Linked DNA regions of Homo sapiens. The protein of the gene in region 6 interacts with the protein of the main gene of each other region in a pairwise test. Each region holds a gene or a part of one and is shown on either strand. Other genes may lie near its edges. The genes, in order: CUTC, GTPBP3, SMARCB1, COL1A2, ARB2A, MESD and COX14.

The links.
Region 1: the proteins of MESD (region 6) and CUTC interact in binary tests that used the Homo sapiens proteins (3 or more experiments, as listed by UniProt).
Region 2: the proteins of MESD (region 6) and GTPBP3 interact in binary tests that used the Homo sapiens proteins (3 or more experiments, as listed by UniProt).
Region 3: the proteins of MESD (region 6) and SMARCB1 interact in binary tests that used the Homo sapiens proteins (3 or more experiments, as listed by UniProt).
Region 4: the proteins of MESD (region 6) and COL1A2 interact in binary tests that used the Homo sapiens proteins (3 or more experiments, as listed by UniProt).
Region 5: the proteins of MESD (region 6) and ARB2A interact in binary tests that used the Homo sapiens proteins (3 or more experiments, as listed by UniProt).
Region 7: the proteins of MESD (region 6) and COX14 interact in binary tests that used the Homo sapiens proteins (3 or more experiments, as listed by UniProt).

What each region holds. Positions count from the first base shown.
Region 1 is NC_000010.11:99,738,734-99,742,233, forward strand, and holds part of CUTC (copper homeostasis protein cutC homolog), read left to right. Parts: intron 1-976; coding exon 977-1,036; intron 1,037-3,500. UniProt on the Homo sapiens protein: May play a role in copper homeostasis. Can bind one Cu(1+) per subunit.
Region 2 is NC_000019.10:17,340,553-17,343,231, reverse strand, and holds the end of GTPBP3 (5-taurinomethyluridine-[tRNA] synthase subunit GTPB3, mitochondrial), read right to left. Parts: intron 2,189-2,679; coding exon 1,910-2,188; intron 1,755-1,909; coding exon 1,529-1,754; 3' UTR 501-1,528; downstream 1-500. UniProt on the Homo sapiens protein: GTPase component of the GTPBP3-MTO1 complex that catalyzes the 5-taurinomethyluridine (taum(5)U) modification at the 34th wobble position (U34) of mitochondrial tRNAs (mt-tRNAs), which plays a role in mt-tRNA decoding and mitochondrial translation.
Region 3 is NC_000022.11:23,789,966-23,793,465, reverse strand, and holds part of SMARCB1 (SWI/SNF-related matrix-associated actin-dependent regulator of chromatin subfamily B member 1), read right to left. Parts: intron 1,711-3,500; coding exon 1,572-1,710; intron 1-1,571.
Region 4 is NC_000007.14:94,422,395-94,425,894, reverse strand, and holds part of COL1A2 (collagen alpha-2(I) chain precursor), read right to left. Parts: intron 2,939-3,500; coding exon 2,777-2,938; intron 1,560-2,776; coding exon 1,452-1,559; intron 779-1,451; coding exon 671-778; intron 286-670; coding exon 232-285; intron 146-231; coding exon 38-145; intron 1-37. UniProt on the Homo sapiens protein: Type I collagen is a member of group I collagen (fibrillar forming collagen).
Region 5 is NC_000005.10:93,881,164-93,884,663, forward strand, and holds part of ARB2A (cotranscriptional regulator ARB2A isoform 1 precursor), read right to left. Parts: intron 526-3,500; coding exon 307-525; intron 1-306. UniProt on the Homo sapiens protein: Plays a role in the regulation of alternative splicing, by interacting with AGO2 and CHD7. Seems to be required for stabilizing protein-protein interactions at the chromatin-spliceosome interface. May have hydrolase activity.
Region 6 is NC_000015.10:80,979,820-80,983,319, reverse strand, and holds part of MESD (LRP chaperone MESD precursor), read left to right. Parts: intron 1-1,137; coding exon 1,138-1,370; intron 1,371-3,500. UniProt on the Homo sapiens protein: Chaperone specifically assisting the folding of beta-propeller/EGF modules within the family of low-density lipoprotein receptors (LDLRs).
Region 7 is NC_000012.12:50,115,236-50,118,094, reverse strand, and holds part of COX14 (cytochrome c oxidase assembly protein COX14), read right to left. Parts: intron 1-2,859. UniProt on the Homo sapiens protein: Core component of the MITRAC (mitochondrial translation regulation assembly intermediate of cytochrome c oxidase complex) complex, that regulates cytochrome c oxidase assembly.

The DNA.
Region 1 (3,500 bases), on a different chromosome or scaffold from region 6:
ACTTCCTGTTGCATCACATCAGGAGGACATAACATGTTGGTTTTTTTCTGTTTTTGTGATATTAAGATTGAACAGGGAGTTCAGGTATTGCCAGCCTAATCTATCCTTAAGGTTTTCTGTCAGCTTTTCACCTAATAAATTTAGCAACCCATATTTTAGTAGGGGTTGCAAAATGGTGACATTTATTTTTCACTTATGAACTAGAATAGTTCTGTAAAGAACTTTCCCTCATCCTCTGTTTGGTTATGCTGAAGTATGGTTTGTATAAGAAAGGCAGAATAAATGCTTGCTTATTTTCCCTTATTTATTATAATACTTTTTAGAATAATGAATTTGTTCTCTGTCTTCCCTTGAATTGTTTTGTCATTATGAATGTAGATTTAGATATATTTTGTGTGTTTTAATCCATTGTAGTTATTCTGCTTATTGATGAACAAAATGTTCTATCTTTGGCTAGTGAGAGCTTCTTCAAACTGGTTCCTGAGATCTTTTGATGTGACCTTGGTAGCCTAATAATTCTTTTGGTTTCAGCATTTTCTTATTCTTGAAATTATCTTGGTTTAGCTACTCAAAAGTAGCTTTGTGTTTTTTAAAGCTTAGAATAATAAAGACCCTTTTGGGAAATATTATGTTATTTTCTTATCAACAAAGACTCAGTATTCCACTATAGTCAGTTTTAAGAAACATCTTTATTCTATGTTACTTTCCTGTACATAGAGAGGCAACCCTATAATACAAAAATTTAAGAGAACTAGCTTAACTTTAATTAATTTTTAAATTTGAGTATGAGTAACACAATGTGGGCTGCAGAGTATAGCTGAGTTAAAAACAGAGTTTTACTCTAGCTTTATAATTTGATTTCTCTGAGATGATTTCTAAGACTGTTCTATATTTGGAAAAAATATATATAAACAGGTTGCTGTTTAATAACAGCTTATTTTTTAAAAATGTGTTGAGCAATGCTTTTATATTACAGGTGCTGATCGGATTGAATTATGTTCTGGTTTATCAGAGGGGGGAACTACACCCAGCATGGGTAAGTGTCCATTTTTCCCAGGTTTTCTGATTGGAGTTCATAGAGCCTGGAAGCAACTGATAATCAGTTTCGTTGGGGTCCTTTACTAATGTCATGTTAACTATGTTATGGATGTTGTATCAGAAATGTTTATGATTGTAAAAAAATCAAAGATTTGATCAAACATATTTCTTTCTCACATCAAAAAGTTGAAAGGTAGGTAGGTAATTGTTAATACCGGTTCAGCTGCTCTGTAGTAACATCAAGGATTAGGCTTTTATAAAATCTTTCCATGCTGGCATCCTTAGTATATTGAAATCCCCTCCTGGTCTTTGTGCTATTGTTGTCATATATTTTACTCATACATATATCAAAAACTCCATGCTGTATTGTTAGTTTTGTTTGAAGAGTCAATTATCTTTTGTTAAATAAGAGATTTAAATAATAAGAAAAAAATCATATATTTACCCACATGCAACTACCATTTCTGGTGTTCTTTATTCCTTTGTGTAGATCCCGTATTTCTGTCTGGTTTCATTTTCATTCTGCCTGAAGTACTTTCTTTAACTTTTTTTGTTAAAAAGTATGCTAGTGATTCATTCCTTCAGCTTTTATATGTCTAAAATAGCTTTTTCCTTCATTTTTGAAAGGTATTTTTGCTGGGTATAGAATTCTAGGTTGACAGGTTTTTTTTTTCTTTGAAGATGTTTTTCCATTGTCGTCTTGCTTGTATTGTTTCTGACAAAAAGCTATCATCCATATCTTTGTTTTTCTCTATGTAATATGTCTCTTTTTTCTACCTACTTTTAAGATTTTTTTATTATTGGTTTTGAACAATTTTCTTATGGTGTACCTGAGTATAGTTTTTTCATGTTTCTTGGACCTGTGCATTTATACTTCTCATCACATTTGGAAAATTTTCAGCTTGCAGCTTGTTCTCCACTCCCTCCTTTAGAGACTTAAGCTATTCTTACATTAGACTACTTGAAATTGTCCCAAAAGTCACTGATGAACTTCTCTATTTAAAAGAAAATCTCCTTTCTGTGTTTTCATTTTGCATAGTTGCTATTGTTTTGTCCTTGAGCTTACTGACCTTTTCTTCTGCACTATCTAATCTGCTATTAGTCTCTCCTGGTATGTTTTCATCTCATACATTGTAGTCTTCATCTGTAGAAATTTGAGTCTTTTTATGTCTCTGATGTCTCTTAACTTTTTTGAACATGTGGAATAAAGTTATGATAGCTGTTATAATGACCTTGTCTGCGAATTCTAACATCTATATCAGTTCTGGGTTTGTTTCATTTGATTTATCATCTAATAATATATCTTATTTTCCTGCCTTGTAATTTTTTATTGGATGCAAGACATTGTGAATTTTACTTTATTGGTTACTAGACATTTTTGAATTCCTACAAATGTTCCAAAACAGTTTGGTCCTTTTGGGTCTTGCTTTTAAGATTTGCTGGGCAAGTCTGGAGCAGTGGTTAATACAGAGCTAATTATTCCTTACTACTGAGTCAGGATTCTTCTGTGAACTCTACCCTGTGACCATGAATTTTGAAATTTTCCTGTCTGGCTGGTGGAATAGGCATTATTCACAGCTTGGTATGAATGACAGGCACATTATTTCTAATCCTTTTTATTGGTTCTGTCCCAGGCCTTGCGTAGTTTCTTTGCATGCATGCACCGGTCAGTACTCAGCTGAATATTAAAGGAGGTTCTCTGCAGACCTCCAGAGTTATCTGTCTTCCTTTCTTCTTTCATTCCTTCCTTTCCTTTCTTTTCTTTCCTTCTCCTTTTCTCTCTCTTTGCTTTCCTTCCTTCCTTTTTTTCTTTTGACAGGGTCTCACCTGTTGTCCAGGCTTGACTGAAGTGGTGTGACCATAGCTCCCTACAGCCTCAAACTCCTGGGCTCAAGCAATTGTCCTGCCTCAGCCTCTCAAGTAGCTAGGATTACAGGCATATGCCACCATGTCCAGCTACATTTGTTTGTTTGTTTGTTTGGTAGAGATGGAGTCTCACCATTTTACCCAGACTGGTCTTGAACTCCTTGCCTCAGGCAATCCACCCATCTCAGCCTCCCAAAGCACTGGGATTACAGGCATGAGCCACCGTACCAAGCCTATCTTTTTTAAAAAAAATCCTTTTTTTAAACCATTGAGATAGTCTTTGCTACTCCAGTGTTATCTTTCTGTCCTCCCTGTACTGTCTCCTATAAACTCTAGCTACTTCAGTCTTCCTGAACTCTAAGCTTTGTCTCCTTAACTCAGGGAATTGTTTTGGCTCCATGTGGGTCCCCCATCCCTGTGCTTTGGCCTAGAAACTCTCAAGGCAGTAAATTGGGTCAATCAGAATTGACTTACTAACTTCATTGTTTACCATTTTCAAGGATCATTGCCCTTCACTGCTTAATGTCCAGTGTCTTGCAAACCACTGTTTCATATATTTTGTCTGTTTTTTTATTATTATTATTATTATAGGTGGG
Region 2 (2,679 bases), on a different chromosome or scaffold from region 6:
ACCCATCTCTACTAAAAATACAAAAGTTAGCCAGGTGTGGTAGGGTACACCTATGATCCCAGCTGCTCGGGAGGCTGAGGCACGAGAATGGCTTGAGCTCAGGAGGCAGAGGCTGCAGTGAGCTGAGATCACACCACTGCACTTCAGTCTGGGCAACAGAGCAAGACTCTGTCACACACACACACACACACACACACACACACACACACACACACACACTTTGGGAGGCCACAGGTGGGCAGATCACAAGGTCAGGAGATCAAGACCAGCCTGGCTAACACAGTGAAACCCCATCAAAAAAAAAAAAAAAAAAAAAGAAGACTAAAGACTAAAAAAGGAATGAGGCCAGGCACCGTGGCTCACACCTGTAATCCCAGCACTTTGGGAGGCCAAGACAGCAGGATGGCTTGAGTCCAAGAGCTCAAGACCAGCCTGGGCAACATAGTGAGACCCCCCATCTCCATAATTCTGTTTTTTTTTTAAAAAGAAATGACAATTTGTAGAGCAATGAACACAATACCATTTATATATGATACACAAGACAAACATATTTGAAAGGTACATCCACAAGTATGCAAACATTCAAAGTTCTGGAAAGACACACATTAAGCCATGACAACCACAGAAGGGCTAAGGAAAATTTCCATGTTGAAACACTTCTGGGGCCAGGTGTGATAGCTCACGCCTGTGATCCCAGCACTTTGGGAGGCCAAGGTAGGCAGATTACCTGAGGTCAAGGAGTTCAAGACCAGCCTGGTCAACATGGTGAAACCTTGTCTCTACTAAAAATACAAAAATTAGCCTGGCGTGGTGGTGTGCGCCTGTAGTCCCAGCTACTCAAGAGGCTGAGGCAGGAGAATCACTTGAACCCGGGAGGTGGAGGTTGCAGTAAGCCGAGGTCGCACCACTGAACTCCAGCCTGGGTGACAGAGCGAGACTCTGTCTCAAAAAAAGAAAAAAATTAGCCGGGCATGCTGGCACATGCCTGTAATCCCAGCTACTCAGGAGGCTGAGGCAGGAGAAGCGCTTGAGCCCCGGAGATGGAGGTTGCAGTGAGCCAAGGTCGCACCACTGCACTCCAGCCTGGGCAATAGACAGAGGAGGGAAGGGTAGGGGAAGGGGAAGGGGAAGGGGAAGGGGAAAGGGAAAGGGAAAAGGAAAGGGAAGGGAAGGGAAGGGAAGAAAATAAACACTTCTAGATCACCTGAGTTTTTTTTACATTCCTTTGGTATTTGCAAAATAAATAAAAAACTACGAAACAAATATACTGAGATCCTCCTATCTCCATCCCAACCCGGATGCCCCAGCATCAAGGGTCGAACGGGACCTCCATTCAGCCCCATTCCAGGGCCTGAATCTCCAGGGAGTCCCTGCAGGGATCTCACTACCTCTCAGCTGTGTTGCTTCACTATTTGAGAATCAAGTTCTTTCCCAGGCGAATGAGAATCCCAATTGGCCTAAACTGTTTCCAGATCCCCCGAGGCTCCTGGGTCTCCACGCAGCTTGGGTGCGACTTCCCTGGATCCCGTCACTTGCCCACACAGAAGTCCTGGAAGATGATGTCCAGGATCTCCTCGGTACCCCCTCCACCTGTGAGCCGGGTCAGGTGACCCCGGGCCACCCGCAGCGCCTCTGCCGCCAGGGCCAGGTCTTTTGACTGCTTGTAGTGGCCGAGGGCATCCAGGCAACCCTGGAGGTGGTGCTGGTGCCTTGCTCGGGTCAGCAGCGGGGGATCTGTGGACGGGTCCCCACACCTGGAAGAGACAAGAGACATGGTCTCTCCCGACCTTTTACAACCATCCCTTGAAGGGGAAATGGTTGTACCCATTTTGTAGGTTCAGAAATTGAAGTTGAGGGACCCACACTTAAACTGTGGGTCAGGGGAGGCTGGGAGTGGGAGGGGGCTCACACTGCAGCTAGCTCCTTCCTCAGCGCCTCCAGGAGGCCGTCCAGCCCCTCTCCCGTCAGACAGGACAGCAGCAGGTGCGGGGGCAGGTCAGGACCGGGACCTGGGCCCTCCGGGGACAGCAGGTCCGACTTGTTCAGCACCAGGAGGAGGCGCTGGCTGCTGTCACTGGGGCTCTGGGCTCCCACAGAGGCTACGACGGTGGCCAGGAAGTTGCAACTGGAGGGAGAGGCCAGGTCAGAAGCATCCAGCATGGCCAGAATGAGGTCAGCCTGCTCTAGCCTGCGGGAGCAAGGTCAACTGAGCGGGGATCCCAGGTTGAGCAATTGAAGGCACTGGGTGGAGGGACAGTTAGAGGGGCCAGGCAGAGCACTGGGGGAGCTGCGAAGCGTGAGGTCGGGAGGGAGGAGTAGAGTACCAGGGGACCGGCAGAATGTTGGGGGCCCAAGCCGAGCACAGGGGGTGGGGCAGAGCAAGAGGGGCGGGGCACAGTGCAGGGGGAAGGGCAGAGCAAGAGGAGCGGTCACGGTGCGGGAGCGGGGCAGAGCAGGAGGGGCTGGGCACAGTGCAGTGAGTAGGGCAGGGCAGGAGGGGCGGGGCACAGCACAGGAGGGCGGGGCAGAGCAAGAGGGGCAGAGCACTGTGCAGGGGGAAGAGCAGAGCAAGAGGGACAGGGCACAGCACAGGGGCTGGGACAGAGCAAAAGGGGCCGGGTACAGCACTGGAGTGGGGCGACCATGAGTGGCGGGGCAGAGCAAGAAGGACCAGACACA
Region 3 (3,500 bases), on a different chromosome or scaffold from region 6:
CGGGAGGTGGGAAAAGCAAGGTGTCAAACTTACTACTGCTGAATGCTGGCCTCTTCCAAAAGGGCAATCTGGACTGAGTGCTTTACTTACAAGTCCTGCTGGGTAGAGCCTCCAATGGGACTGATTTGGACTAATCTGCCCCAGGAGCACTGGCTCGGGGCAGAGGGAAGTGCTCAGGGCAGCACCAGCAACTACAATACAGCACGACCAGCGGGGACACTCGACTCCAGAACATATTCTCTTGGTCCTCACTCAGGGGAAAAGAAAGCTCCCAGAGTAACACCCCAGTGGGAAGAGGTCTGACACCACCACAATCCACAACACGATGCAAGGTGGGGAGATGGAATGGAAGATGAAGAATACTTTTCTTTTAAAACAAGAGCCCAGAGAGTTGGAAAGAGCTGCTTCACACCAAACACGAATTTCTATCCCCGAGCCGGTCCACACGTGCTGCCTGGGAAGCAGGACAGATTCTAGGCAGCTCGACCCCTAGCTCTTCCGGGGAATCTCCGTCAAGAGCTACCTGTCTGTGGGCCCAGTCTGGCTTCTCCTGGAGAAATCAATCGCTTATGGGGAAGGTATCTCCCAAGACTTAGCCCAGGGACTTGCGGAGGGGGAAGCAAAGCTGGGGACTCACTGTGTTAGCGACTGATGCTCTGCTAGGGGAGGAGGGGGAACAAAAAGGAAACTGTTTTAAGCAAGTGAGTGGAAATGTCATAGCAGCAGATCAAAAAGAAGCTCCGGCTCCTGCATTAAAAGAACCACTACTTTCCCGCAGTGGACAAAACCACAGCAGCACCTACAGACACAAACAAACAGGGCAGACTACGAAGCATCGCGCACATGCTCACAGACACACCCAGGCCCAGGGCAGCTCTCTACAAGGCGCCATTGCCACGTGGGAAGCAGTTTTGCCACCTGCCCAAGGACATGCTGTGTCCACACCCAAATGTCTCCATGGGAGTGTCTCCCACAGAGCCCCCAGAGTGTCTGAAGAGCACCCTTTCACCCTGCACAGAGCTGCCGTGACCCAAAGCCCACTAGTTTCACTAGTGTACCTAGCAAGCCCCAGGCACACGCAGGCCACCAGGAGCAGGGACATGCACATGGGCTCTAGCACACTGGCTGCCAGGATGAAGTGCTATGGGATGGATGTGCTCCAGGAAGCAAGCAGTGAAAGCCCCAGAGGGGAGTGGGAGCTGGGACCACCACCCGCCACTTGGGCTGCATGGAAGATGATTATGGCGACACACCCACGACAGATGGCAGAGCATCGCAGCATTCCTAAAACGTTTTGAGACCAACATGTCTTCACAGCACCTGCTAGTGTCCTGGCCCCGGCCCGCTCACATACCCAATGGCCCTGCTGGAAATAACTGACAGTGGACCACCAATGGCTCCCTGGAGCCACTTCCTTGCCTGGAGTGCTCACAGGGCGGCCCACCCCGGGATGCTCCCTGCCCGACTAAGGCCAAGGCTGCAGTGAAGACACTCTGGAGTGAAAACGTTTTATCTTCATGACATAAGCGAGTGGTTTTGAAACAGGTTTACAAACCCTCGTGAAGACGCACCCTTAGTGTTAGGTTTTGTTTTTTTACCATGTGACGATGCAACTATTTTCTTCCTCTCTTCCACAGTGGCTAGTCGCCTCCAGAGTGAGGGGTATCTCTTGTACAGAGAACCTCGGAACATACGGAGGTAGTTTCCCACCTATGAGTAAAGCAAGAAGGCTCATTATAAGGGTCGCAGCACCACAGGGAAGGGGAGGGTCCTGGCGCAGACTGCATCAAGCAACAGACAAACAGGCCTTGAGGTGGCCCCCAGGCGCCACGCTTTCGGCAGCATTAAAACACATTCTGCTGATATGAAGGGTTCACCAGCAGTGCACATCTGGCCTGCATATGTGCATCCTGACAACAGAACCAAGTTCCGAAAGGCCTGGGCAGATGCCTGAGTGGGAGGCCCCCAGAGCTTAGCAAGAAGTTCGTGGTGATTTTGATTTTGGACTAAGGATCTCTGGCACTTTCCAGAAATGCAAGGCCTCCTTGACCTTCTTTTATCTTAAGGACAAGACTTTGATATCTTTACAATGTAATAAACACCAAAAAGGTCTTTTAATTTTAGACAGATGCCAGATAATTTCCCCCATGGCCTGTGTTGCTTTGTTTAGTAACAAAACCCAAACCAGGGATACCAAAGGAATTTTCCAAAAGGTTTACAAGGCAATCACCAGACTGCTATATAAATCATCACTGACTCAAACAATGGCTTCAGTTTGCTTGTAGCAAATACTGAAAGTGTGACTTCCTTAAGGAAAATAAATCTAGACCTAAAGTTTTTATGAGGGTACCCTATTGTCTCGTTGACTTTTCAAGTATGATCACTTCGGAGTCACATTGCAGGGGATGGCCAATAGACTGGGTGCCAGGTGCTGGCTCCATCTGTAACCTGGGATCACTTCCCATTTTCTGGGTACCCTTTACTCATCTGCCAAATGCTCAGCAACTCTGAACTTCACCCCCATGAAGGACCACTTCTATTATGTTTCCCATTTTATCTACGCAACATAGTATATATTTTGCATTTTTAAATTTATTTTTAATTTTTATTATTATTTTTGAGACAGGGTCTCGCTCTGTCACCCAGGCTCGATTGCAGTGGTGCGATCGATCATAGCTCACTGCAGCCTCGAACTCCTCGGCTCAAGCGATCCTCCTGCCTCAGCCTCCTGAGTAGCTGGGACTATAGTTGCTTGCCACCACAACCGGCTAATTTTTGTATTTTTTGTAGAGACGGAGTTTCACCATGTTGCCCAGGCTGGTCTCAAACTCCTGGGCTCAAGCGATCTGCCCACCTCGGCCTCCCAAAGTGCTGGGATTACGGGTGTGAGCCACATACCCGGCCTAATTAAAAAAAATAAAAATAAAAATCTGTAGAGACAAGAGTCTCACTATGTTGCCCAGGCTGGTCTTAAACTCCTGGGTTCAAGTGATTCTCCTGCCTGGGCCTCCCAAAGTGCTAGGATTATAGGTGTGAGACCCAGGCATAGTATTAAATAAAATGTTTCTCCATTTTCAGCAGTGACTGTAATCAACAACCAGGGCTACTGAACGCTGAGAGAAGAGCAGACACAGCAAGTCACTCGCTTTCCACATAGAGGGCACAGACCCCTCTATGTTATTTGGCTTGTGTGTCAGTATCATCCAGTATCATGGTAAATGTAGAGTTTCCATTAGGTTTTTTAAAAGAAATTGACAATACTCCCCCCTATGACTACCTTGCAGGCCCTGCAGGGCTCTGAGTCTCCTAGATGCCCCCCAAAGCCCCTTCAGAACTTAGGAAACTGGGCTTGCCTTCCTGGCTTTCCTCTGAACCAGCCTTCACCCTCTTGGGACCCAGGTTTCCTGAATATAAAATCAAGGTGCTGGACTTGGGGATCTGTTAGGGTCCTCAAAGCTCCATGACTCCGGCTTGGTAAATACAGCTGTCTGTTAATGGCA
Region 4 (3,500 bases), on a different chromosome or scaffold from region 6:
GAATGCTGCACTGAGGGACTGGTATTCACAAACTTACAGTTTCACCACGGTTTCCATGTTTGCCAGCAGGACCCACGGGGCCATGAGGACCAGGTGCACCTGCAGCACCAACGGGACCAATATTGCCAGGGTAACCGCGCTCTCCCTACCAAAGGCAAAATGAAGCTTAGCATCAATCTGGGTTGCATTTTAATCACTTTTGAATTAGAGAAAGATGAAAAGTGTACTGACCTTGTGTCCGGGTTGACCATCGCGACCTGGGGGACCATCGTTCCCAGGGTTGCCCTGTGAAGACACCACACAAATTAAGGCTGTTGGTGAGGCTCTGCTGCCTACCAGCCCCTATGTTGTAGCTACTCTGTCTTCATCACTTCCAGTGCTCAGTAACGAACCCTCTTTCAGACTGTTAAAACTAGGGATAAAAACCTGCCAACCTAGATATTTTTTAGAGATGTTTTAAATACTTGGGCCCAGTTTTGCAGTGTGCTATTGAAAAGCCCATTCTTTGGCCTAAGCAATTTTCATATTTTCAGTACTAGGTGTAGATACTATGGAGAAGCTGACCATCTTGTTCAGAAATTTGGAAGAAGAGAACCTCAGCTCAGGACATAAAGTTTCACACAATGAAATCCTGCTCAGTTTTATTTTACAAACCAAGTGTTGGACTCACATCACGACCAGCTTCACCAGGAGCACCGTTGACTCCAGGACTACCCACAGCACCAGGAGGACCACGGGCCCCAGGAGGGCCGGCAATGCCAAGAGGACCAGGTTCACCCTAAACAGGCAGAGAAGATAAAATGACATTCCCCTTATTCGATGGAATGCTAACCTTCCCCTCCAAAACAACCCTACTCAGGAGATTCTAGTTTGAAGGAAGAAGGTAAATTGAATGTGAATGGGTCACACAATGGTAAGAAGTATCATTAGTATCATCTCTGCCCTCCTTCTCCACATGTAGATGGCCAGCTTTATGTAATCACGGGATGTTGCTCTGTAAAAAGTGAGCCTCGTGTCATTCAGTATCCCAAATGAAATGAATTCAAAAAGTTGATATATTTTATGGAGATGAGATGGTTTCTAGTTGTTGTCACGTATAAGGTTTAATGGAACGATTCAGAACTTCCAGAGTTTCATTCTTCCTACAGGATAAATGATGCCAGCATTTCATATTGCAGAGGAGTAAACGCAATTAGAGATTGTATCATTCCTAAGTGCGTGGAAAGAACAAAAATCATTCTGCATAATTTTAAGCTGTGTCTTTATAGTGTGTGTCTAAGTAAGGTGGTATTAAAGCTTCTTAGATAAGTGACATGTGATCTGTATAAAGAAAATGCCATGAATAAAAATCTTAAGTGAAGTTATTCAGTGATCAATCTGTCACATTTGAAGTGGCAGCTTTTAAAATCTTTTCTTATGTTAATGGAGTCAGAATACTGTCAAGCACTCACCACAGCACCAGCAACACCTGGTAGACCACGTTCACCTCTCGAGCCAGGGAGACCCAGAATACCAGGAGCACCAAGAAGACCCTGAGGACCTGGAGTGCCAGGAGGTCCCTAAATAGAGAAAAAATACTGAGTATTATGGGTAAGACCCTAGGTGATAACACAGGTTGGCTTGAAGATTGTGAGAATAAACTGTCTTCAGCTTAGAAAAAGGCTAATGACCTCCTATTACTAGGACATATCCTTGGATATCTTTTCTCTAGTGATGACGGTGAGTTTACATCTTGGCATGAATACTTTTGTATCTGATTCATCCTTGAGACCAATGGCACAACATTTAAAAATATGTGGTTGAGATTTATAAAGACACTTGGGGTGGTGAAATAGAGTTTTTATAGCCTCTAGGCAGGGAAACAAATAAAAAAATTTAAATTGTTATGGATACATAATAGTTGTACATAGTAGGAGGGGTTCCTCAAAAAACTAAAAATAGAACTACCATAAGATCCAGCAATCACACTGCTGGGTATATACACAAAGGAAAGGAAATCAGGCTGGGTGGGGTGGCTCACATGTGTAATCCCAGCACTTTAGGAGGTCAAGGTGGGTGGATCACCTGAGGTCAGGAGATCGAGACCAGCCTGACCAATATGGTGAAACCCCGTCTTTACTAAAAATACAAAAATTAGCTAGGCATGATGGTGTGTGCCTGTAGTCCCAGCTACTCGGGAGGCTGAGACAAGATAATTACTTAAACTGGGGAGGCGGAAGTCGCAGTGAGCTGAGATCGTGCCACTGCACTCCAGCCTGGGCAACAGAGGGGAACTCCATCCCAAAACAAAAAAACAAAAACAAAAACAAAAAACAAAAACAAAAAGGAAATCAGTAAAATCAGTATATCAAAAGGAAGCAAATTTTGACTTTGGCCTCTAAGGTCTAATAGGGGCACCTTTCAGAGTAGCACTAATACTGGACAGTGTATGTTTAAGAAATTGGTAGCCTACTGAGATTGATTAATATGTAGTAGGATGGCCACAGCAATGGGACTCTGTTCTAATCCTGGTACCAGTAAGGTGCCTTCAATAGCTTTAAGGGCTTTGTGATAAAACTGAGTTCCCTCATTTATTGTCTTCCCGATTTTGTGCTTTCTGAGCATCTTGGAAGCCACAGCCCCTCAGTGTGTGCTGGACAGATTTCCTGGCTCAACTGAGCTCTACTTGAGAGCCTGCAATACTCATCAACAAATAGATGCCACTTGAAGATTTGTGTAGGGGCTTTATTTTAATTCAGCATAAGGTATTAAGAAAGAGGAGTTGGAAATCACTTACAGCAGTACCAGCCTCTCCAGAGGGACCCTTCTCACCAGCGAAGCCAGGGGGACCAACTGCACCTACTTCTCCAGTTCGGCCAACTGGACCTTGGTCACCACGAGGACCACGAAGCCCTTCTTTCCCAGCAGGACCAGGGGGACCAGGAGGGCCAGAAATACCCTATGAGCAAATGTACAAGGTCATTTCCTTTCTGTTAATCACCAAGGGCCTGGAAGAGAGCAGCAAAGATTCTAGATCTTAAGATGCAAACAATGTGATGCAATAAAATAATACCCTGGCCATTTGGGGGAAATATTTATAGTTTTTAACCTTCTTTCTTGCAGAAAGAAGCAACTCCTGTCTTCCTTTATGAGGCTGTAACCAACCAAATAATGGAGGAGAGACTATGGCAAATTTCTATGAGGAAAAACAATGTCATGCCACTGGTACCCTGGCATATTGGAATCAGAACTATGTAGAATGATAGGAGTTAATGATAAATGAATGGGACTCTGAGTTTCGAAGGACTTTGCCTTTTCTTTTTTCTTCTTTTTTTTTTTTTTTAAAGAAAGCCAATATACGTGTTTTGTTCATAATTGAGGAATCCCACACACTTCTCAACTAGGTTTAATTAAATGCCTACAGGGAATGAAGATTTTTCTGTTATGAACCTGTAAAAGGATTCCAAGAAATCAACATCTTTGCTATTTTTTTTTCCCAGAAACCTTAACCAGAAGACTTA
Region 5 (3,500 bases), on a different chromosome or scaffold from region 6:
AAGTTTTCTGCCTTCTGCATCCATCACAATAAAATTATTTTAGAAAATTTTTCTTGAGGTAGTATATGACACAAAAGGAAACAGAATTTGCATTTGTGACTTCTATAAAATGTCACACTGAAATAAGAATGATGCGTTTTGTAATTCTGAATTTAAAAACCCATTTAATCCAAGTAGACGACTATGGGAAATAAATGATGACAAATAAAAAAATTAATATTCTTGAAGAAAAACAAAACAATCTACATATAATAAAATATATACAAGGTAAAGAAAATAGTAAAGGAAAGTAGTGATCTCACTCACTCTGATATACAATTGCATCATTTCTTTTTCTCTTTGGGGGTTACGATACTTCTCATAGAAATCACGTCGCTTCTTTGTTTCTTTAGAAACTTTATCTTTTCTTTCCCGTTTTTCTGCTGGTTCATCTGAACTATCAGATGATGACTGTACGTGTATCTTCGGCTTTTCTACTTCAATATAGTTTTCATTGGGATTTAGTACTATTACTCCATATCCTTCCTGTTTTGAAATGAAAGAAGGTAGCATAATTTAAATCTTATAATCCATTTCAATTTTCAAAAAAGTTCTTAAAATTTCAGTCTAAGCAATTTTTATATAGTTGCATATTCATTAAAATACTCCTTTAGGCAAGATAATGATTTTATTTTTTTCAAAAGAAAGTCATTTAAAATTGTTTGCCTTTATTGTGTATATAAATAAGCTTTTATTATTTATAAGAACAAAAAATATAATTGCAACATAAAGATTATAAAGCTTAAATTAAAAAACTAATTCAGATATCTCAGAACCCAAAAATGACTGAAATAAATTAGCAAATAATTTATTTTCAAGTAAACTTTCAAATTATATTAATATTTATACTATCTGTTTTGAGAAAACAACCTCTGAAATCAAAGTTTACAATTCAAACTACATTTTTTTGTATATTTTTCTTTACAATGGCCCTTTCAAGAGCATTTTTTATTTGTCTGAACAATTAAAAAGAATAAGCAGTTAAAAAAGAATAAATCTGATTTAACATTACAAAACCATCCATACCTACATTATTATAAAGACATAACATCTACTTGTGTACCTTGAATTTTATTCACTTTGTTTCTCACAGGAGGCCAGAAAAATCATGTAGCAAAATAAGCCACTGTCTTACTATAATGTATGGAAGCAAGTCTTTAATCTTAAAATTTCTTTCATTTTTCAACCTACCATAAAAATTCTCTTTATTAAAAACTATAATCAGGAAATAAGCAAGGTTCCAAAGTTAAAAAATACAGCTTGTTGAGCTATTAAGGCTTTTTTTTTTTTAAATTTGTAAAACATGTTTTCCTGTCTCATTTCTTTCTAGCCTGGCAAACATTTCTGTGGTTATAATTAAGAAAACGTTTGATATTTATATTATGTCTAATGGAATAAGCTAACCATGAGAAAATATAGAGAGGGATAAACAATAACCATTGACAAGCATGGGTAACACAAATTTTTGAAGCTATTATATATCTTGTCTTTTCTATTCAGTTATGTGTTGTGAGGTTCCAATTATGTCCTTGTAAAATACTATAAGGTCATATTTAAAAGATGTATGATATTATAATAAAAACATAAGAGCTACAGAAAATAGCTCACAAAATCTATTTATTAGAAAATCTATTTAATAGAAAATAAAACTTATAAAATCTCATCCTTACTTAAAATAGGTAGTATATATAGTTTTTCAAGACAGTAACTGTAGAATCTTCTACTTGAAGTTTAAATTTTAAATTTTTTGCCAAACCAACCATAAGATGATTTTAAAAAATTGACAGCAGTAATAGTAAACCAGTAATAGCACAGACTCAATTATCTTATTTTAAAATATGCTGCATTACTGCACATGGTTGGTTTTTTTAAACAGTTGATTTCACAAACTACTTACAAACTTCTTTGGAATTGTTTTCTATTTTTTCCTCCATCAGATGATATTATTGTCTAAAACGATTATTTAGTTTGGAAATTTTCAAGATCACTGAAGTTCTGATTTTAATGATAGGACTATTAATTAAGATACAGTCATCTTACATATATGGAAACTATATAATAATATATAGCAAACTGATTTACAAACCACCACCCATTCTTCAACAGATGTTCAAATAAAGCTTTTAGAATAATGCTTCTTTCACAAAAAGCTTATAAAACACTTTACACATTCTGTAATTTAAACTTTCTACATCAAAGCAAAAGAGAATTTTTTTTAAAGTTTCTTAGCTCTAAGTCAAAAGTTTTACCAACAAAAGATATTTTATTTGGTCCTGCTTTATTCTAATCTGTATAGCTATTCAAAAGTCTTGTAATTCATTGTGATCACTGTCAGGTAGACAGATTGTCACTTGGTGATTTTCTACAGTTGGACACACTTGACTAGTTATTAAAATCACATTTGAAGGAAGTTCCTACCCCTCTTCCTTGTGCCTCTTACAACTTTTCACGCCCTTCTCAAATTTCAGCTATAACTTCTCCTCCCACCAAAAGTAAGTTAAAGAACACTGTTGCACTCTGCTAAACAGGGTGAAATAGAGGCATTCAGTACACTGTCTCTGGTGTAAGGAACATAGTCAAAAAAGGTCACCATAGGCCAAAAAGAAAATTGCCTCCCTACTAGATTCTGTACCGTGAGTAAGTGGTCTCCTGTCATGTTTCTTCCTTGCCTTCTCTGAGTGAATTGAACTTTAAACACACATACACACATACACATACACATACACACACACACACACACACACACACACACACACACACACACCACCCTCTCATACTCAGGAGTTAAAATTAGCAAGACCAAAATAGAATCTTAAAATTAGTAGAGATGAAAATAGTGATATACTACATTTTAATGATAATATGAAAAATTTCAAATTCAAAAACTTCACTCAAGGTAAAAGAGTGGGACTTTAATAAGCTGAAATAACATGGCATCATCTTTGTATAATGAATAAATCTCAAATAAAGGTAAACTCTTTGAACAAAATTTACAGTCACCAGAATTGTAAGACTATTATCTTATTACTTAATCAAAAAAATAATATTTTCATATCTGGCTTATTTGAGCAGAACTTTAAACTTCAATTTTTAGAAATCATAGATTGAAAAATTATCGTGCCTACTTAATTTGAAATAAGACTCTGAAATTTGATATGTTCCATGTAAATAAGTATTTTAAAAAAGGCATTTATATATCATCAAAGAAGCAGTATTTGTCTAAGTAACTGAAAATTACATGACTCATCTGTTCAATATCATAAAGGCACAATGTCAATGTTTCCCTTAGGCATCAACAGATGAGAAATGATTCTATTTTTAAATCACCACTATATAAATCAATTGAAGATTTGTTATCATTTAGATTTCAACAATGGATGCTTCTATTTAAACACCCAAACTATTTAGAAAATATTTTATCCTTTAGATATTTCAGATTGCCAATTTAATTAATGTGACAA
Region 6 (3,500 bases):
TGGGTATACATGGAGTGCAGATTTTAAGTATACAGTGCAAAGAGGGAGTATTTCTTTTCTTTTTTTTTTTTTCTTTTAAGACAGGGTCTCGTTCTGTCTCCCAGGCTGGAATGCAGTGGCATAATTATAGCTTACTGCAGCCCTGATCTCCTGGGCTCAAGTGATCCTCGTGTCTCAGCCTCCTGAGTAGCTAGGACTACAGGCACCTGCCGCCACACCTGACTAATTTTTAAATTTTTTTTAAGAGATGGGATCTCACTATGTTGCCCAGGCTGATCTCAAATTCCTGGGCTCAAGCAATTCTCCCACCTCAGCCTACTGAGTAGCTGGGACTACAGGTGTGCCTCACTGTAGCTGGGACTACAGGTGTGCATTGCCATACCTGGCTACTTTTAAATTTTTTTTTAGAGACAGTCTTACTGTGTTGCCTAGGCTGATGTCGAACTCCTGGCCTCAAGTGATCGTTTTACCTCAGCCTCCCAAAGTGCTGGGATTACAAGGTAAGCCACAGTGCCTGGCCTGCAATAAATTTTGATAAATGGATATATCTGTGTAATCTACACCCCTGTCAAAATGTAGAACATTTTCATCACCCCAGAAAAGTTCTCTTGTGTCCATTCTCAGTTAATCCTCCCTTGTCCCCCCTTCTACAGGCAACACTGTTCTAATTTCTGTTACCCTAGATTAGTTTTGCTCATTCTTGAATTTTAAATAAACGGAATTGCATAGTAAATCTTATTTTGTATCTGGCTTCTGTCACTTAACATTTTTGGGATTTGTTAGATGTATCAGTATTTGTTCTCTGTTGCTGTGAAGTATTTCATTGTGTGACCATACCAGAATGTGGCCATTTTTACAGCCTACCATGTTGGGTAGATTGTATGAGAGTTTAAAAGCTCTAGAAACCCATCACATGGGGGCGCTCTGTGATTGGTAACCTGGGTGTGGGTAGTATGTGCTGCCTGAAACTTAGACTATCTTGAAAGTTAAGAAGAGGAAGAAAACCCCTGGTTTTCCTTTTTATGTTGTAATTTAAGTCATATACATGCACCTGACATCATGCAGAAGTTTTTGCCTGTGCCAGTTGAAAAGCAAGATTCTGATGATAGGTTTGATGCTTTTCCCCTAATCTGATAGAAAGATGATGACATTGAAGAAGGAGATCTTCCAGAGCACAAGAGACCTTCAGCACCTGTCGACTTCTCAAAGATAGACCCAAGCAAGCCTGAAAGCATATTGAAAATGACGAAAAAAGGGAAGACTCTCATGATGTTTGTCACTGTATCAGGAAGCCCTACTGAGAAGGAGACAGAGGAAATTACGAGCCTCTGGCAGGGCAGCCTTTTCAATGCCAACTATGACGTCCAGAGGTAAAGCAGCAACAACCAGCTGAGAGACTCATAGGCTGTGCTCGGTCTTTTCTTTATTATTATTATTAATTATGATGATGATGATGATTTTTTTGAGACAGAGTTTTGCTCTTGTTGCCTAGGCTGGAGTGCAGCGGCGTGATCTCGGCTCACTGCAACCTCCGCCTCCCTGGTTCAAGCGATTCTCCTGCCTCAGCCTCCCGAGTAGCTGGAACTACAGGCGCCCGCCACCATGCCTGGCTAATTTTGTATTTTTAGTAGAGACAGGGTTTCACCATGTTGGCCAGGCTGGTCTTGAATTTCTGACTTCAGGTGATGCACCCGCCTCAGCCTCCCTAAGTGCTGGGATTACAGGCGTGAGCCACCACACCTGGCCCTGTGCTGGGGCTTTTCCTGAGGCTCTTAACAGGGTGTCCTTTCTGGCCGTATTTCCCAAGGGCCTCTGCCTTTCCTTTCTAGGTTTTCTTTTAAAATTATTTATCTATCTAGTTTGTTTTTTTTTTTTTTTTTTTTGAGACGGAGTCTCACTGTGTTGCCCAGGCTGGAGTGCAGTGGCGCAGTCTCAGCTCACTGCAAGCTCCGCCTTCCCGGTTCACGCCATTCTCCTGCCTCAGCCTCCCGAGTAGCTGGGACTACAGGCACCTGCCACCACGCCCAGCTAATTTTTTGTATTTTTAATAGAGACGGGGTTTCACCGTGTTAGCCAGGATGGTCTCAATCTCCTGACCTCGTGATCTGCCTGCCTCAGCCTCCCAAAGTGCTAGGATTACAGGTGTGAGCCACTGCACTCAGCCTATCTAGATTTTTTTAATGTAAAGAAGAGCGTTGCCGGGTGCAGTGACTCACTTCTGTAATCCCAGCACTTTGGGAGGCTGAGGTGGGCGGATCACGAAGTCAGGAGATCAAGATCATCCTGGCCAACGTGGGGAAACCCTGTCTCTACTAAAAATACAGAAAAATTAGCGGGGCATGGTGATGCACGCCTGTAATCCCAGCTACTCCAGAGGCTGAGGCAGGAGAATCGCTTGAACCTGGGAGGCAGAGGTTGCAGTGAGCCGAGATTGCGTCACTGCACTCCAGCCTGGCGGCAGAGCAAGACTCCATCTCGGGGAAGAAAAAAAAAAAAAAAGGGCATTTATTGTTGGTAAAAGCAGTTAAGTTTTTGTTTTTATTTTTTGAAGAGGCGAGGTCTCACTATGTTGCCCAGGCTGATCTTGAACTGCTGGCCTCAAGTGATCCTTGCACCTCAACCTCCCAAAGTGCTAGGATTACTGTCACTGGCAACCATGCCTAGTGTGTGTTTTTTTTTAATATCTCAGTTGATCCTAAAGTTTTATTTATCTTTGGATCTTTAGCTTTTATTTCATCTGAACAGAAGGGTGTATAGCTTAGTTTAGACTCTTTGAGGGACAAAGTTAATAGTTTGACAGCTTCAGCTAGAAGTTTCTGCTCAGTGGAAAGTGCTTTGTGTGTAGCTATGTTCACACATAGAGCTTGGACCATGCTGTTAACCGATAACTAATTTAGTATGAAGAGGCTCAGTTTTCACACTTGAGTATGGTCCTGAGGTACAATTTTAAGAAATCTGCTTCTTTTTCCTCAAAAACAGTTCTGAAATTTGGGGTCTGCAAATATTCTGGTTTAGGAAATATAAAAGCAATGACAAGAAATGGGAGGAGTACTTAGAGAGTGTCCGGCCAGCAAAATATTTTCAATTAGCTTAAATAGACACCTAGACAGAACAAATAAATGTCTTGGTGATGTCTGCTCCAGAAGGCCCACTGGTCTCTGTGGAGTGGTGGGAGCATTAGAAACTGAAGGGGGAACGCGTGGTGTAGTCCCTAAGGAACAGAAGAATCTTGCCCGCTGGCCACACTAGGGCTCCACCCAGGCCTCATTCTTTCCGCTTTGTTCCTTGGGACCTTTCGAGTGTGGACGAGCTGGGCAGCTTGCTGCTAAGCTCAAGGGCTAGGATTTTTGTCCAACAACCAAGTGTCCTCTTGAGTCCTTCATAGCCTCTTATCATGACCCACTCTAAGCCATTGGTTTTCCACCTTTATCAGCAGAAGTCTTTTGTCCCATAAAAGTGTAACTGGACACTCTAGAATATAAAACAGATACAGATCAGAT
Region 7 (2,859 bases), on a different chromosome or scaffold from region 6:
AGCCTGGATGACGGGGAGTGAGACTCCATCTCAAAAAAAAAAAAAGGGGGGGTGCCAGGTATGGTGGCTCACGCCTGTAATCCCAGCACTCTGGGAGGCTGAGGCAGGTGGATCACGAGGTCAAGAGATCGAGACCATCCTGGCCAACATGGTGAAACCCTGTCTCTACTAAAAATACAAAAAATTAGCTGGGCATGGCAGTGCGCGCCTGTAGTCCCAGCTACTCAGGAGGCTGAGGCAGGAGAATCACTTGAACCCGGAGGCGGAGGCTGCAGTGAGCTGAGATCGTGCCACTGCACTCCAGCCTGGTGACAGAGCAAGACTCCATCTCAAAAAAAAAAAAAAAAAAATTAGCCCAGCGTGGTGGTGCATGCCTGCGTCCCTGCTACTCGGAGGCTGAGACAGGAGAATTGCTTGAATCCCAGAGGCAGAGGTTGCAGTTGAGCCGAGATCGCATCATTGCACTCCAACCTGGGCAACAGAGTGAGACACCGTCTCAAAAAAAAAAAAAAAGAGACAGAAAAAGAGTGCCAGGGTGGAAGCCAAGAGGGGAATGTCTCAAGGACCTTTGGACCCAGTCCTGAGGAGCCTTGAGAGAACTGGGCCCAATAAGCCTGCCAGTGAGGCCTAAGAGGGCCCTATTTTTAGTTTTTGGCAGCTTGCTCTCCACTTAATGGCTCTCAGCACTGTAGGCAGAGACACTTAAAATCCCGCCCCTTACCATGGCCACGCACACACACACACCAAAGCATACACACAAACAACAAAGTCAAGAACCTAGGCAGGGCATGGTGGCTCACACTTGTAATCCCATGCTTTGGGAGGCCGAGTCAGGAGGATCACTTGAGGCCAGGAGTTTGAGACCAGCCTGGGCAACATAGTGAGACCCTGTCCCCACAAAAAAAATTTTTTTTTAAATTAGCCACGCATGGTGGCATATGGCTGTAGTCCCAGCTACTCAGGAGGCTGAGGTGGGAGGATTGCTTGAGCCCAGGAGGTTGAGGCTACAGTGAGCTGAGATCGTACCACTGCACTACAGCTTGGGTGACAGAGTGAGACCCTGTCTCAAAAAACAAAAAAAAATTGAAAGTAAAGCTCAGGATTCGCTGGTTTAGAGGGGTCAGACATGGGTACAGACATGTAAATACTTCTCAGAGTAAACCCTAAGGGCTGAACATTGCCTTTGAGGCAGGTCTTGAGTGTGGACCCCAAGCTGAGCTGAGACACAGCTTCTTTGAAATATAATCCCACTATGGAAAGTGATATTAAGTAAGGTCAGAGGAAGAATACTAAGTGACACAAGTTCAAGATGAGAAAGGATTGTGTTCAGGTTTGAAATCTGAGGTTTGAAATGGCCCCAAGCTGTGCATGCAATAGTGAACAAAACACACACCCATGGAGCTGAACGCTAAGCCGCCTGCAAAGAGCCCTGCAGCCTTCAACTTCCCTGTCACTTATTGCTATTCCTACTCATCACCCTAGCTAGATGCTTAACAATTATAGGACCACCTCTTCCAAGGGCTGGAGGAAAAGAGCTGGAAGCATTCACCAACCAACAAAAACAGGATGGTACAGCTTGGCTAGAAAAGTGACATAAAACCAACTAACAGACATAATCCTGCTGTCTAGAACCTTACCTTCCCTCTCTTGTCTTAATCCATCCTGTGGTTTTCCCTAATATCCAATTAGCAAAAACTCTTCAGGCCGGGCGCAGTGGCTCACGCCTATAATCCCAACAGTTTGGGAGGCTGAGTCGGGCAGATCACCTGAGGTCAGGAGTTCGAGACCAGCCTGGCCAACATGGCAAAACCCTGTCTCTACTAAAAATACAAAAATTAGCCAGGCGTGGTGGCGGATGCCTGTAGCCCCAGCTACTCAGGAGGCTGAGGCAAGAGAATCACTTGAACCTGGGAGGCAGAGGTTGCAGTGAGCCAAGAGAGTGCCACGGCACTCCAGCATGGGGGACAGAGCAAGACTCTGTCTCAAAAAAAAAAAAAAAAACTCTTCAGATTCTGAGCTAAAGCAGTGGTAGCAGTAGAAGTGGAAAGAACAGATGCAGAAGATACTTTGGAAGTAGAAAAGGATTTATCAATGGAGCGAATTAGGGCAAAGCTGAAAATATTAATACCTCCAAGTTAGGAAACTTTGTAGACTGGGATACTGTTAACAGAAATAAGAAACAAGAGAAGAGGTATGTATCACTGTATATACAGGGTGGTGACAGTGTCCATCAAGAAGATCACGTGGCCGGTGCAGTGGCTCACACCTGTAATGCCAGCACTTTGGGAGGCAAAGACAGACGGATCGTTGAGCCCACGAGTTTGAGACCAGCCTGGGCAACATGGTGAAACCCTGTCTCTACAAAAAATACAAAAATTAGTGGGGCGTAGTGGCATGCACCTGTAGTCCCAGCTACTCAAGAGGCTGAGGTTGGAGGATCGCTTGAGCCCAGGAGGTAGAGGTGCAGTGGGCCGAGATCATGCCATTACACTGCAGCCTGGGTGACAGGGAGACCCTGTCTCAAAAAAAAAAAAAGGAGGATCATGAGCTGGGCTTGAACACGTTAAAATGAAGATGCTCGGCCGGGCGCGGTGGCTCAAGCCTGTAATCCCAGCACTTTGGGAGGCCAAGGCGGGTGGATCACGAGGTCAGGAGATCGAGACCATCCTGGCTAACACGGTGAAACCCCGTCTCTAGTAAAAATACAAAAAAATTAGCCGGGCATGGTGGCGGGTGCCTGTAGTCCCAGCTACTCAGGAGGCTGAGGCAGGAGAATGGCATGAACCCGGGAGGCGGAGCTCGCAGTGAGCAGAGATCGCGCCACTGCACTCCAGCCTGGGCAACAAAACCAGACTCCGT